2 separate regions of the Homo sapiens genome follow, and region 2 is linked to region 1. The links come from fine-mapping of genetic effects on gene expression. Tissue or cell type: whole blood. Region 1 holds a variant in brackets; the other region holds the start of a gene. All regions are shown on one strand. Distances are from middle to middle.

Region 1 (8,100 bases):
TCTCAACACTTTGGGAGGCCGAGGTGGGTGGATCACCTGAAGTCAGGAGTTCGAGACCAGCCTGACCAACATGGTGAAACCCCATCTCTACTAAAATACAAAAAATTAGCTGGGCGTGGTGGTGCATGCCTATAGTACCAGTTACTTGGGGGACTGAGGCAGGAGAAGCGCTTGAATCCGGCAGGCAGAGGTTGCAGTGAGCCGAGATCACGCCACTGCACTCCAGCCTGGGTGAAAGAGCGAGACTCCGTCTTAAACAAACAAACAAAAAAAGAGACAGAGAGAGAGATGGGGTATTGCTACGTTGCCCAGAATGGTCTCGAACTCTTAGACTCAAGCAATCCTCCTGCCTCAGCCTCCCAAGTAGCTGGGATTACAGGCAGGTGCACCATTGTATGTCTTTTAAATATCAATATCTCAATCTCATTTTCAGAGATCACTTCTATGCAACCACTTTAAAGATCCCATGTGTTAAGACAAACTTTTAGAGGCAGGGACAGAGAAAACCTATATTTCAAAGGGGAAAAAAATGAGAGCTTAATAATTTGCCTTGAAGTTATTTACTAAATCCATAGGTAGGCTAAAACTGTCCTTATTCCCTGTGGTTCTCTTCTGATTTGTAAAAGGAGAACAGAATAGCCAAAAACATTCAGTAAGACAGTCAAAAACCAAAACCGTAAGGCAAAAATAACAGCATGAAAAAGGACGGGGACCCTGGGAGAGCCCAAAGCAATAACAGATTATTCAAGTCCTTTAAAAAATATGAATTCTGGACAGGCGCAGGGGCTCACGCCTCTAATCCCAGAACTCTGGGAGGCAGAGGCGGGCGGATCACGAGGTCAGGAGATCCAGACCATCCATCCTGGCTAACACAGTGAAACCCCGTCTCTACTAAAAATTCAAAAAAAAATTAGCCAGGTGTGGTGGTGGGCACCTATAGTCCCAGCTACTCGGGAGGCTGAGGCAGAAGAATGGGCGTGAACCCGGGAGGCGGAGCTTGCAGTGAGCCGAGATCGCACCGCTACACTCCAGCCTAGGCCACTGAGCGAGACTCCATCTCAAAAAAAAAAAAAAAACGAATTCTGGGCCAGGCACAGTGGCTCATCCCTGTAATCCCAGCACTTGCGGAGGCCGAGACAGGAGGATCACTTGAGCCCAGGAATTCCAGACTAGCCTGGACAACAGGGCAAGACTCTGTCTCCAACAACAACAACAAAAAAATATATATATATACATATATATATATATATATATATATATATATATATATATATATATACACACACACACGTTAGGCGGGAGTAGTGGTCACACCTGTGGTCCCAGCTATTGGCGGGGCTTAGGTGGAAGGACCACTTCAGCCCGGGAGGTCGAGGCTTTAAGGAGCCATGATCATGCCACTGCACTCCAGCCCGGGCGACAGAGTGAGACCACGTCTCTTAAAAGAAAAAAAAAGAAAAAAGAATTCCATCACATATCAGTTCCTTGCCTCAATGCTATTTTTAAGAACTTTCCTTCCTGATAAAAAACTCGACCATACACACTGCCATGCTGAACACTTTAACATTTCCATCTTGGCCGGGTGCAGTGGCTCACACCTGTAATCCCAGCACTCTGGGAGTCCAAGGTGGGAAGATCGCTTGAGCCCAGGAGTTCAAGACTAGTCTGAGCAACATAGCCAGACCCCACCTTTAAAACAAAAAAAAAAAAATTCCATCTTCCCTCACTTCACACCACTTCAACATGAACCCTCAACTCCAGACGTTCCAATGCGCATCTTAACATTCTCAATCCAACCTTTAACTAAATTCTGATTCCTTTTCAAAGAACGCTCTCAAGATTCCCTCTAGTGTAAGCAGTTTCCCGAGCCATCTTCCCAAACACTAGCTTTCACCTAACTCAATCCCCAAAATGTCACACTGGACTCCTCACCCACAGCATCCTGCTAATTAGCCGTTCCCAACAGGTCCTCCGTTCCCGTCTCCCTTTTTGCGCACGATTACCTCGTTCCTCACAGAGTTGCCGCCTTAACTCACCCAACCCTTCAGGAGCCCTTATTGCCTGTCTCTCAAAAACGTTCCTCCCCATTTTTCCAGTCCCCGCTCGCCCCATACCAATATTCGACCACTCCTCCCCAGATTCCCCACGCCCTCTCTCCTCCAGGTTCTTCCGATACAGTCCCCCGGCCCCCCGCCCCTCAGGCCCCACCCGCAAGACCCCTCTCCCCCTCCGGCCCCTCCTCTAATGCCCCCCTCTCTTCTCAAGCCCCGCCCCGAGCCCCCCTCCCCGCGACTTTCCCTCCCACTCAGGTCCGCAGGTCATTTCAGCGACTGACCCAGCCGCCCCGGCCTCTTTCCGACCTGGCCGCAGCTGCTCTGGGAGCGAATCCTCTGCCGCCTACACTCCGGCTTCGTCCTGTCCTGCTCGCCCCCCGGCAAGCTCTTTCTCGCCGTCGCCGCCGCCGCCGCCGCCGCCGCCGCCGCCACCGCCCCTTTTGCCAACCCGGAAATGGATCTGCTCCCACCGTCCCCAGCGTCCGCGAACAAAATGGAGGCGGGGGAAAAAGGAGGAGAGAGCAGGGAGCGGAGAGATGCGAGACGCATGCGCCCCTGGGAAGCCCGCCCCCTGCCGGCCCACGTAAAGGCGGAAGCGGTTGAGTGGACGCCATCTTAGGAAGGTCACAGGAATTCCGCTTACCAGCTAAAAGCTGGGTTTGCAACTTTAGCTGCAATTGGAATCACCTGGCAAGATTTAAATACTATGATGCCTGGTTCCCACCCCTGGAAATTATAATTTAATTCTGGGGTGCAGCCTAGGCATCAGGAAATTGTTGCAGGTGATTCTAACGTGTTGCCAAGGTGGAGAACCACTGAGCTAAACAGTCATTGTTGAATATACTCCTTTCGTCTTTAATCCGCCGCACACACACACACCCTCCCCCCTAAATATCCTTCCTTAATCTCGAGTTAACGAAGAACCCGCCTCGGCCAACCTTGCAAAGGCCAAGTAGTCAAGCTCCGGTTGTCATGGCAACAGAGGCAGGCCACTGCTCACAAGTCATCATTTACGTCATCTTACCCACCTGACTCGAACACCGTCTCTTCTTTCTCGGGCTGGGGTTTCCTCCAGCTTCCAGGGCTATAGGATGGTGCTGTGGACCCCTCCAGCTGCTTGGGCCAGAGAGAGAAATCCTGTGCCCTCTTTGATGGAGCTGCTGTTAAACCCTGACAGCTGACTAAGTATCTCTCCCTAGTCCACCCAGAAAAGCGCTTTCCATTATAGCTTCAAAATACTCTTGGTTTAATTCCATTCCCAGCACAGAATCCGAAGTAAGGGGGCAAGATTGGGACTTAGTCCCCATTACTTACAAGCTGTGTGCCATTGGGCCTTAGCTACCCTATCTGTAAAATGGGTCTAATAGTGCCTGTCCCGTCTGTCTCATAGAGTTGTTGCAAAGCTGAAATCAGTTAATGAATGGGAAAACGTGATAGAGCATA[A/C]GTTGTTATTATTTTTGTTTTCCTTCTATTCTGCCATGAGTAGTACTAGGCACCACCCACTAGTCAAGTAAATGTCACATTGAGTACCTGCTAAACACCAGGAGATGGCTACAGAGGTGACTAAGACAGAGCCTCTGCCCTCAGGGAACTCACTACGTTGGTGGGCAGACTGGCATAAACAGCTAGCTGAGATACAAGTCAGCGTGTGATTAGTGCTGTGGGACGTCAGACAAGGGAGCAATTAATTCCTGCTAAAGAATGGAAGGAGGTTTCCTAAATGGTTTGGAGCTGGGCCTTGAAGGATGAATGGAATTTTATTATTAATCAGAGAAGGCAGGGAACACAGCAGGCATAGGGATCAAGGACACGAGGTAAAGATTTTCAGCTGTCTACATCCTGCATGGCCATACGTGGGGCGATGGAGCCAGGGAGATGGTGGGTCCAAACACCTTACCAGAGCCTCCCAACTCTTCAACCTCATCCCCTGCCTGTCCCCTCCTCACTCACTCTACATTATGAGGACCTGATTTCTATCACTGCAATGTACCCCATTCAGCAGTTCCCACCTCAGGGACTGTGTACTGGCTATCCTCCGCCTCTTCCTCATTTTTCAAGCCTTACTGCAAATGCTTCGTCCTCAGAGGGCATTCACTGCCCACTGTAGCTAATGTAAAGCCCCATGCTCTATCACACACTCTGTGATAAGGGCAGCCGCTGGGATGAATATAGGGACATCTCACCCAGACTTGGGGAAATAGTGATATAGGCTTCATGAAAAAGGTAAATGGCCCAAGTGCAGTGGCTCATGCCTGTAATCCCAGCACTTTGGGAGGCTGACAGGGGGGATCGCTTGAGCCCAGAAGTTCAAGACCAGCCTGGGAAACATGGTGAAATCTTGTTACTACAAAAATTACCCGGATATAACCGGGCACGGTGGCTCACGCCCGTAATCCCAGCACTTTGGGAGGCCAAGGCGGGCAGATCACCTGAGGTGGGGAGTTCGAGACCAACCTGACCAACATGGTGAAACCCCGTCTCTACTACAAATACAAAATTAGCCAGGTGTGTTGGCACATGCCTGTAATCCCAGCTACTTGGGATGCTGAGGCAGGAGAATCGCTTGAACCCAGGAGGCGGAGGTAGCGGTGAGCTGAGATCACTCCATTGCACTCTAGCCTGGGCAACGAGAGTGAGACTCTGTCTCAAAAAAAAAAAAAAAAATTAGCTGGACACGGTGGTGTGAGCCTGTGGTTCCAGCTACTTGGGAGGCTGATATGGGAGGATCACTTAAGCCCAGGAGATCAAGGCTGGGCTGAGCCATGATTGGCCACTGCACTCCAGCCCGAGCAATAGAGTGAAACCCTGTCTAAAGGAAGAAAAAAGAAAGTAACTAAGTGAGGCCATACCCATATTCTAAGTGAGACTTGAGGGACAGGTAGGAATTGACCAGGGAAGAAGTGAAGGAAAAGCATTGTAGGGAGAGTTTGGGCAAAGCAAGAAGAATCATGGCACATTCCAATAACTGAACGCACTTTTTTTTTTTTTTAAGAGACAGGGTCTTTTAAAGACATGCTGCAGTGCAGTGGCACAGTAATGGCTCACTGCAGTCTTTTTTTTTTTTTTTTTTGGAGACAGAGTCTCGCTCTGACGCACAGGCTAGAGTGCAGTGGCGCAATCTCGGCTCACTGCAAGCTCCGCCTCCTGGGTTCACACCATTCTCCTGCCTCAGCCTCCCGAGTAGCTGGGACTACAGGCACCTGCCACCATGCCTGGCTAATTTTTTTTTTTTTTTTGTAGTTTTAGTAAAGACGAGGTTTCACCATGTTACCCAGGATGGGCTCGATCTCCTGACCTCATGATCCGCCCGCCTCGGCCTCCTGAAGTGCTGGGATTACAGGTATGAGCCACTGCGCCTGGCCTGCAGTCTTTTTATTTTTTCTATTTTTTGAAAATGAGTCTCACTCTATTGCTCAGGCTGGAGTGCAGTGGTGTGATCTCAGCTCAATGCAACCTCCATCTCCTGGCTTCAAGCGATTCTCCTGCCTCAGCCTCCCGAGTAGCTGGGACTACAGGCACCAGCCACCATGCCTGTCTAATTTTTGTATTTTTTTTTTTTTGAGACAGAGTTTCTCTCTTGTTGCCCAGGCTGGAGTGCAATGGCGCAATCTCAGCTCGCCTCCCGGGTTCAAGCGATTCTCCTGCCTCAGCCTCCCGAGTAGCTGGGATTACAGGCGCCTGCCAACACGCCCGGCTAATTTTTTGTATTTTTAGTAGAGATGGGGTTTCACCATGTAGGCAAGGTTGGTCTCAAACTCCAGACCTCAGGTGATCCACCTGCCTTGGCCTTCCAAAGTGCTGGGATTAGAGTTGTGAGCCACTGCGCCTGGCCCTAATTTTTGTGTTTTTAGTAGAGATGGGGTTTCACCAAGTTGGCCAGGCTGGTCTCAAACTCCTGATCTCAGATAATCCATCCACCTTGGTCTCCCAAAGTGCTGGGATTATGGGCGTGAGCCACCACACCTGGCCTGTAGTCTTGAACTTCTGGGCTCAAGTGGTCCTTCTGCCTCAGCCTCCTATTTGGGACTGCAGGCACTGGTGACCACATGCAGCTAATTTTTACATTTTTTTTCTTTTTCTTTCTTTCTTTTTTTTTTGAGAAGGAATCTCGCTCTGTCCCCCAGGCTGGAGTGCAGTGGTGCAATCTCGGCTCACTGCAAGCTCCGCCTCCAGGGTTCATGCCATTCTCCTGCCTCAGCCTCCCAAGTAGCTGGGACTACAAGCGCCCGCCACCACGCCCAGCTAATTTTTTGTATTTTCAGTAGAGATGAGGTTTCACCGTGTTAGCCAGGATGGTCTCGATCTCCTGACCTCGTGATCCACCTGCCTAGGCCTCCCAAAGTGCTAGAATTACAGGCGTGAGCCACGGTGCCCGGCCAATTTTTTTCTTTTCACAGACACAGCATCTCCCTTTGTTGCCCAGGTGGTGTGGAACTCCTGGCCTCAAGTGATCCTCCTACTTCGGCCTCCCAAAGTGCTGGGATTACAGGTGTGAGCCACCTCACCTGGTTCAGAAAATATATTGATATAGAGTTAGAACTTCTGGGGGAGGCAAGAAATTAGGTTACAGAAGTCATCATAAGTTTGACATTTAGTAACACTTACCATGTGCCAGGCACTGTCAAAACCTCACATAGCTCATTTAATCCTCTCAATAACTTTCTGAGGCAGATATTTTTAAGCCCATTTTACAGATGAAGAAACAGACACAGCAAGGTTAATCATCTTGCTCAAAGTCACATATCTATAAGTAGCGAAAGTAAAAGTATCTCCAGAGTCTGTGTTTTTTGTTTGTTTGTTTCAGACAGTCTTGCTGTGTTGCCCAGGCTGAAGTGCAATGGCGCGATCTCGGCTCACTGCAACCTCTGCCTCCCGGGTTCAAGCAATTCTTCTGCTTCAGCCTCCCGAGTAGCTGGGATTGCAGGCACATGCCAGCACGCCCGGCTAGTTTTTGTATTTTTAGTAGAAATGAGGTTTCATCATATTTGCCAGGCTGGTCTTGAATTCCTGACCTCAAGTGATCCACCTGCCTTGGCCTCCCAAAGTGCTGGGATTACAGGTGTAAGCCACCACACCTGGCCCTTTGTTTTTTTGTTTGTTTGTTTGTTTGTTTTGAGATGGAGTCTCGCTCTCTCGCCCAGGCTGGAGTGCAGTGGCGAGATCTCGGCTCACTGCAAGTTCCACCTCCCAGGCTCACACCATTCTCCTGCCTCAGCCTCCTGAGTAGCTGGGACTACAGGAGCCCACCACCACACCTGGCTAATTTTTTTTTTTTGTATTTTTGGTAGAGACGGGGTTTCACCATGTTAGCCAGGATGGTCTCAATCTCCTGACCTCGTGATCCGCCCGCCTCGGCCTCCCAAAGTGCTGGGATTACAGGCGTGAGCCACTGCGCCCGGCATTTTTTTTTTTTTTTTTTGAGACAGAGTTTCACTCTTGTTGCCCAGGCTAGAGTGCAATGGCGAGATCTCGGCTCACCGCAACCTCCACCTCCTGGGTTCAAACTATTCTGCTGCCTCAGCCTCCCTAGTAGCTGGGATTACAGGCATGTGCCACCATGCCCAGCTAATTTTGTATTTTTAGTAGAGACGGGGTTTATCCATGTTGGTCAGGCTGGTCTTGAACTCCTGACCTCAGGTGATCCGCCAGCCTTGGCCTCCCAAAGTGCTGGAATTAGAGGAATGTGCTACTGCGCCCAACCCCTTTTTTTTTTTTCGAGACACATCTTGCCCTGTCGCCCAGGCTGGAGAGCAGTGGCATGATTTCAGCTCACTGCAAACTCCACCTCCTGGGTTCAAGCAATTCTCCTGCATCAGCCTCCTGAGTACCTGGAATTACAGGCGTGCTCCACCACACCTGGCTAATTTTTGTATTTTTTAGTAGAGAAGGGGTTTCACTATGTTGGCCAGGCTGGTCTGGAACTCCTGACCTTGTGATCCACCCTCCTCGGACTCCCAAAGTGCTGGGATTACAGGCGTGAGCCACCGCACCCCGCTGAGCCTGTGTGTGTGGTTTTTTTTTGTTTTTTGTTTTTTGTTTTTTTGAG
Region 2 (8,100 bases), 39 kb after region 1:
TGAGCCAAGGTCGCACCACTGTACTCCAGCCTGGGTGACAGAGCAAGACTCCATCTCAAAATAAATAAATAAATAACACCTTTCATTTGTACAGGGCTCTGCAGCCTCCAAAGCACTCCCACATCTGCTATCAGACTGATCTTCATAGCAGCTAATAGATAGGCAGGGCAGGTGCTATTTACCTCCATTTTACAGAAAAGGAAACTGAGTCCCCATGAGGTTAGGTAATCTGTACAAGTCACACAGCTGATGAGTAGAAAAGCTGGGACTGAAACCCAGGTATGTTTTCTTTTCTTTTTTTTTTGAGATGGAGTCTCACTCTGTCACTCAGGCTGGAGTGTAGTGACGCGATCTCGGCTCACTGCAACCTTTGCCTCCCGGGTTCAAGTGATTCTCCTGCCTCAGCCTCCCAAGTAGCTGAGATTACAGGTGCGTGGCACCATGCCTGGCTAATTTTTTCTATTTTTAGTAGAGATGGTGTTTCACTATGTTAGCCTGGCTGGTCTTGATCTCCTGACCTCAGGTGATCCGCCTGCCTCAGCCTCCCAAAGTGCTGGGATTACAGGTGTGAGCCACTGCACTCGGCCCCAGGTATGTTTCCTAGGGGAGAGTTTAGGCTCTGAGATTGCATGTGGGACGGAGGGAGTGGCTCCCTTCTGACCTCTCCTTTTCCAAACTCCACAAAAGGATATTACTGGTGTAGCTCCTGCAGAAATTTCTCCGTCGGGAGGAAGAGAGAATGGGTAAGGACAATGTCATCCAGCAGGATATCTGTAAAGATCAGTGGGCACCACAGATGTCAGGTGGGCACTTCCAGAACGAAACTGGAAATGCAGTGCCTCCCTCTCTTGCCCCTAAGGGCAAGTTCTCTTTAGCCAGGCTGGAGCCCCAGCCACCTGCCTTGTCATGCTCTGCACACGCGCACACATACATGTGTAAAGGTTCTGGGCAGCCACTGCGAGGGTGGGTTCGGCAGCTGCCAAGGCAGCTGAAGGGAAGGGGGGGGCGCGTGCCTTTGATGGCCATGTGCACTTCTCTTCAGCGTATGTGGGAAGTTGGTCAGATAACACACCAAGGTTGAGTTCTGCCTGAAAAAAGAAGTAGCCCACAGAAGTGTCTCCAGACAAAGAGTATTTCCAAACACAGAGGTTAGCATCAGTGGGGACTGTGTGTGTGCATGTGTGTGTATCCCTCTTCCCCTCCCCATTTCCCACCTAACAGCTTTGAGTTCTAACTAGGCAGGTGGGAACCAGCCTGATTAAAAGGGAGATGGAGAGACTGCCATCACTTTGATCCCAGAACCTTTAAATAGAAATCCTGTGTCCTTTAGGGGCCCAGAGACAGAAGGGTTAATGATGGAATGGTGAAGGGGAGCGGCTCCTCTCACCACCCCTTTCCCCTCCACACCCCCGTCTGGGCCTGGCTCAGCCAGTCAGCCGGGTACAAGGTCGCCCTGACTTGCAGCCAGCCCTGGGGTGGGGCAGGGCCACCTGGCACACACAGACAGACAAGGTGCAGGGAGGGAGCCAGGTGTCCTCACCAGGACTGGTTAGGGCCAGGTCCCCAGGCACTGTCCCAGGACAAAACCAAGGCTTCTGACTCCCCTTGGTTCACTATCTCCTGTGGTCAGTTCTAGCCATGCAGGCGGAGGAGGAAAACCAACACAAAGTAATTGACTTCAAGGATTTCATTTCGCAAATGTGAAACTGAGGCCCAGAGCTGGGAGGGACTTGCCTGGAGCTGGAATAAGAACCCAGAATCCTGAGTCTTTGTCCTTTTCTCAATATGCCTGAGGCAAGCAGAGTGTTAGGGTAAAACCTAGCGGTCAGAGGGGGCTGCTTGGACGTTGGAGAGGCTTTGGTAGGTTCAGAGTAACTTCTGTAAGTTCTCTCCTCCCACACACCCTGGGAGGAGACCAGGATGACTTGAGAACATTGGTTTTATTGGAGAACATCAGAGTGGCAGGTTAAGCTGATTCTCATTCACCTGGGACTGGTTTGGAATTTCCCAAACTAGTTACTCTGGGGATCCAGGCTGCCAGATAACATGGGTGACATTTCAGGAGTCTTACCCCAGGGGAGAATGAGCGGAGCGTGTGGCACCAGGCCCCTGTAAAAGGGGAAAGACAGCTTCTCCCTTTTCCTCCCTGCCCAGCTACCCTGCTGTGTTCTTACAATGAGTCAGAGAGCCTCCAGCTCTGACCCCCAGCTTCAGGGATGAGGGTGAGGAAACGAGAGGCCTGACATCCTTCATAGACTTTATCTCACAGGATTCCTAAGCTGGAGCAAAGGAAGAGTAAGATGGGGCAGAGTTGGGGAGATGCTGATATGGGGGCCACAGTTGGGCATCTGTCTTTTCCAAAGCAGGCTCTGGGCCAATGTACAGCCTCCCTAGGGAATGTGTCATAGAGACACAGGGTGTGTGGTGTAGGCGGGAAGTTATGGTTAGGAGAGCTGTGTGTGTCTGATATTTTTCTAATTAAATCCAAAAGGTGTCAGCTCCCCAGGGCAACTACAGCCTGCTCCAAAGGAGAGGACCCAGGTCTTGAGAAGGATCTAGGAGAGTGGAGCCCCCCTCCACACATCTAGGTTGGGGTTCCCTGCCGAGGGCTGAGAGCAAGTGTGAAAGCCCTCACCATTAGGGCCTCAGCCGGGGCTCCCAAACCTCAGACCCTCCTGGGCTTAGAGTAATGCCTAGAGCTAGACCTAAAGAACCCTCGGTCTTCTACCTCAGAACTAACCAGATTTGGGGCCTTGGTTTCCTCAAAGGCCCCTTAGTAGGGGTGCTGAAAGGGAGTGGTGAAATAGTATCATCATTTAGGGAATAAGCTTCTCAGGGTGTGGTGATTATATTTTAAAGAGGCCGTGTGCCAGGTCCGGTGGCTCACGCCTGTAATCCCAGCACTTTGGGAGGCCGTGGGGTGGGGGTGGGGGGAGGTAGATAACGAGGTCAGGAGTTCAAGACCAGCCTGACCAAGTTGGTGAAACCCCGAAACCCCGTCTCTACTAAAACTACAAAAATTAGCCAGGCCAGTGGCTCACGCCTGTAATCCCAGCACTTTGGGAGGCCAAGGCAGGTGGATCACGAGGTCAGGAGTTCGAGACCATCCTGGCTAACACGGTGAAACCCCTGTCTCTACTAAAAATACAAAAATTAGCCAGGCGTGGTGCCACATGCCTGTAGTCCCAGCTACTCAGGAGGCTGAGGCAGGAGAATCGCTTGAACCTGGGCGGTGGAGGTTGCAGTGAGCTGAGATGGCGCCACTGCACTCCAGCCTGGGTGACAGTGAGACTACATCTCCAAAAGAAAAAAAAAAAAAAGCCGGGTGCTGAGGCCTGCCACCGAAGGGTGGAAGCTGGAGGCGCTTGGACACCCTGGATGCTGCAGGGCCATGATGCCGGCCCAGCCACCTCTCCCCTCCCAGACACCTTCTGAGTCCAGCCCAAGGAGAATACTATCCCCCCCACCAAACTGCTAAGGACAACGCATCCCTTTGCTGATGCCTAAAAGGCAGCTTGGGGCCTGTGCCTGTCTGGCACTGCCTCCCTGGGTGGGTCAGCCTGCGCTGTGTAGGCCTCTGAACAGTCAGGGACCCCAGGGTTTTCAGGGCTAAAGCACCTCTGGCGGGTGGCATGGCTGCGCTGGGCAGCTCCCATTTTAATGTGTCAGGCCCTAATTTGGGGCCACAGGAGGAGGTATTCAACATCAGGGACCCATGGGAGTCAGTGGCTCCAATGCCCAGGGGAAAGGAAGGGTGGCTGAAGGAGAGTAAGAGGCTCAGCTGCTTCTCCAGACGAGGGTGAGGCTGCTGTAGGGAGGAAGGTGAGTACTGCTCTCCTCTTCCGCGGGAGGGTCTGTACCTCCGCTAGGCCCCTAGCCGGCTTCCGCGGACCACTCAACCCTATAACCAAGCCCCGGCACGGCGCCACCCCTACGCTCCAAGGGCAAGGAAGAGGAGCCGGGGCCAGCCCCTGCTCTGGGTGTTCGAGCCCACCGGCTCCTTACCTGAGGCGGCGCTGTCCCTGGTAGCCCCTCCAGCAAGCCGCTCCAGAACCCGGTTCAGAAGATGCTCGGGCCGCTCGGGGGCGCCCAGAGGGGCCCAGGGCGGCGAAGTCAAGGGCTCGCCTGGGGACAGCTCGTCAGATGAGTAGGAGGAAGGGGAGCGCAGGGGCCCCCCTCCCCCGAGAGGCCCGGGCCCCGGCACCTCCTCCAGCTGCAGCCAGCAGGGCCCCCCGCTGCCCGGCTCCTCCGCGACCCCCGCCGGCTCTCCTCCTTCCTCCTCAGGGGGCGGCTCCAGCCCCGGCTCGGCGGGGGGCTCCCGGAGGAAAGCGGGGAGCAGCAGGCGAGACACGCTCTGACGCCGCTGCAACGACCGCTGTCCCCCGGCTGGACCGCCGCCCCCGCCGGGTCCCCCACCCCCTCCAGGCCCACCGCAGCTCCCCAGACCCCCGCCGGGACCTCCCGCCACCGTTCGGCCCGCCAGCTGCGACGTCTGCTTCTTCAGAAATTTCTCCAGCGGCTTCATGCCCCCCCCCGCCCCTCTCCTAGGGGTCGCCGGGGGACCCAGGTATCCCAGGCGCGGGCGGGGGGGGCGGCGAAGACACGATGCTCAGAGCTGGAGGAGCAGAGTAGAGGGCCGTGCCAGGCGCCAGACTGGGGGCCAGAGGGGCCGAGCCTCGCTGGCCAGAGTCCAGTGGCCAGTAGCCGGGGGAGGTGCCAGAGGAAAGGAGTGCTCGCTCTCAGCAACCCCCCATGCCGGCTGCAGCCGGCACGCGGCCCGAAGAGTGGGCAGGCTGCGGGGCCGGTGCGCCCGGCTCTGCGCTGCGGCGGCAGAGGCAGCGGGCGGAGCGCAAGGCTGAGAGGACGCGGCGGCGGCGGCGGCGGCGGCTGCGCTCCTGGCCGTGAAGAGGGGGAAGGTGGCAGAACCGAGACCGCGCCCCCTCCTCCAGTCCCCGCCCAGTCCCCGCCCCTACCCTTCCTCGGCTCGCCCCCGCGCCGCACGAGGCTTGAACTCGCGCGCTGGGGTTGACCGCGAGGGAAACAGTAAGGGACTTGGGTTCTAAGCAGAAGAAATTAAGGGCAAAGGTAAGTCAGAGATTTACCAATGGGGAAGGATTCCTGGCTCAAGGGATAACCGGGTCTCAGCATCATTTCAAAGAGTCAGGACAGGTCTGTGGCCTGGACACCTTCACTCACCTACCTGTGTACCCAAGTCAGGCCTACAGATTGCTGAACCCAAGAGTGTGCACCTTTCTCATACTCACAGAAATATGTGGAGTTTATCTTCCTTCTGTGAGAAGAGCTGGGAAGGCCTCTTGGGTGAATTAGCATTGCCACTGGAGGCGGTGCCCATCTGTCCTCTCTGGTAGGGCACAATAGGTGGTGTGGGCCTGGTCTGTGGGCAGGTACTGGCAGGCAGGTAGGAGCCAGGCAGGGAGCAGCAGGTTGTGGCAGGTCTAGCTGGGGTGAGGAGGGGATAATAGGCAGTGGGGAGGAGACCAGGAGCACAAGGGCACCTGAGCCCAGCTGGCAGCAGAAGGAAGCAGGGCCATGGAGACAGGTGACAAGCCCCAGAACTGCCGACTATCATCAAGCACAGAGCCCAAGTGTACATGGCCATGGAGTGGGAAAAGTGGTGCCAATTAGCACTCCAAGTAATCCTTACTCCTGATGCCCACACCAGGAGCATTCTGTCCTTAAGGATATGCTGCCCCAGAAGGAGTGTGGGGGAGGAGGGGGGTGCATCGTAAAGCCATGCTAAGTGTGAGAACATCCAGGTTAGACTTACAAGGTGTGGGAGTGGCAGCAGGTTCTCGATGGGTTGAGGCTCTCTGGACAATGCCCCACCCCTGTTTACCGAGCACCAACCAGGCAGAGACAGGAATGCTAATGGCTGGGAGTGGTAGTAAAACTGAACAGGGTGTGTATGACATACGTATCAATGTATGTGCATATCTGTTCCCATGTGTGCTAGAGCATGTGTTCACAGAAATAAAGCTTTGCACACCCATCTGTTTGTGGATTTGGAAACAGTAAAAAGAAGACAGCGCACAATTTTGGCTAAGAAGCTGTATTAGAGGTCTGAGTATCAGCTTCCTGTGCTCCCCTTATTGGACACTCCAATATCCCCTGGCTTGAAAGGGGAAAGTGGCTGGAATGGGTTGGAGCTCCCCAGGTAGCATTTTATGAACTGAATAGGAAGAGGGAAGGGCTTCTCTCCCAGCACATGCCACAGTTACCAGATTAAGCCGGTTGCCTTGGTAACCTTCTCTCTGGGCAGGATTTGGGAATTGTTGGTTAGGAAGGGCGAATTGGGGAGTGTGAAGGGTGTAGGGGGTTGAAAATAAAACAGACTGAGAGACTTCTGGAAGCTAGAAGCTTGGGACACAGGACCCCAGTACTCCCCCAAATGCTCAAGGATGTCAGGCAGAGACTAAGTTCAACATTTTGAATCAGTGAGGAGAGCCAGCATCAAGTCATGGTCCTCCTGGAGTGGCAGTGGTTTTCACCCTGACTACACACTGGAATCACAGGGAAGCTTCTCAGAAATACTGATGCTGGCTGGGCTTGGTGGCTCACGCCTGTAATCTCAACACTTTGGGAAGCCAAGGCGGGCAGATCACTTGAGGTCATGAGTTCAAGACCAGCCTGACCAACATGGTGAAACCCCACTTCTAAAAATACAAAAAAAATTAGCCGGGCATGGTGGCACACACCTGTAATCCAAGCTACTTTGGAGGCTGAGGTAGAAGGATTGCTTGAACCTGGGAGGTGAAGGTTGCAGTGAGCTGTTATCATGCCACTGCACTCCAGCCTGGGTGAGAGACTCCATATTAAAAAAAAAAAAAAAATACTGGCCAAGTGCAACAGCTCACGCCTATAATCCCGGTACTTTGGGAGGCCGAGAAGGGTGCAACATGAGGTCAGAAGTTCGAGACCAGTCTGGCCAACATAGTGAAACCCTGTCTCTACTAAAAATACAAACATTTGCTGGGCATGGTGGCTGGTGCCTGTAATCTCAGCTACTCAGGAGGCTGAGGCAGGAGAATCGCTTGAACCCGGGAGGTGGAGGCTGCAGTGAGCCGAGATCATGCCACTGCACTCCAGCCTGGGCAACAAGAGCAAGACTGTCTCAAAAAAAAAAAAAACAAACAAACAAAAAAAAAACTGATGCCTAGGCCATATCTCAGACCAATTAAATCAGATTTCTGAACCAGGGCGAAGGCTTATGGTATTTTTTAAAAAGCTCCTCACATGACACAAATGGCCAGGATTGAAAATCACTGCCCTAGACGGACAGTCAACCCAAGTGGGCTGCAGATGCTGGGAGCTGACTTTGGAATTCCAAGTCTTTGGTGCTCCGAGTTGCCTACAAGGTAGCAGGTCTGTGCGCTGACCCTGAAGGGGAAGAGAGCTGGCAGAGCATTTGCACCCGCTTATGGAAGAAATAAAGAGGAAGGCAGGGTGGTATGAATAACAACTATGAGATGGGGGCGAAAAAGCTTTGAGCTTTTTTTGAGCCCATGGGCTTCTACAAGGGGACTGGGCAGGGCCACCTCAGGCTATCTGTCTGCTGCTTACACACCCTCTTCTTTCTGCCCACCCAGAGGCAGGCTGGGAGGATAGAGAGAACCTGGGGGCTTTGCTGAGCTTGAGTTTCTTCTTGCAGAGCTGGTTACCAGGGCAACAGAGAGAGCAATAGGGTCTAACTGAAGGACTAGGGAAGCAAGAGGCAAGGGTAAAGGGGAAGCATCCAACACTCAAACCTCCTGCCAGTAACCCACCCCCAAGGCTGGATGGCATTTTTTCATAACCCCAGGAGATCAGGCCTACAGTCACCCATCACATTGTGGGGAAGAGAAGCAAACTGACATGATTTAAAGAGGAATTAGGGGCCCAGCGTGGTGGCTCACGCCTGTAATCCCAGAACTTTGGGAGGCCAAGCTGAGCCAATCACCTGAGGCCAGGAATTTGAGACCAGCCTGGCCAACATGGTGAAACCCCATCTCTACTAAAAATACAGAAAAAAAGTAGTGGGGCATGGTGGCGGGCGCCTGTAAACCCCAGCTACTTGGGAGGCTGAGGCAGGAGAATCGCTTA

What was found. PIP is the estimated chance that this variant, and not a neighbour inherited with it, causes the effect.
Region 2: RAPGEFL1 starts here. The variant in region 1 is fine-mapped to the expression of RAPGEFL1 in whole blood (INTERVAL, PIP above 0.99).

The regions. Positions count from the first base shown.
Region 1 is chr17:40,213,753-40,221,852 of GRCh38, reverse strand. It overlaps WIPF2 (WAS/WASL interacting protein family member 2), which reads right to left and starts at 2,549. Exons shown (of 8, transcript NM_133264.5): 1 at 2,361-2,549. RefSeq lists enhancers at 1,930-2,708, 2,609-2,718, 3,159-3,208. The variant A/C (reference allele first, on the strand shown) is at 3,498.
Region 2 is chr17:40,174,287-40,182,386 of GRCh38, reverse strand. RAPGEFL1 (Rap guanine nucleotide exchange factor like 1) reads right to left here and starts at 4,917. Exons shown (of 15, transcript NM_016339.6): 1 at 4,006-4,917; 2 at 693-771. The coding sequence starts at 4,525. RefSeq lists enhancers at 2,934-3,788, 3,789-4,645, 5,037-5,537, 5,538-6,038 and a silencer at 4,876-5,005.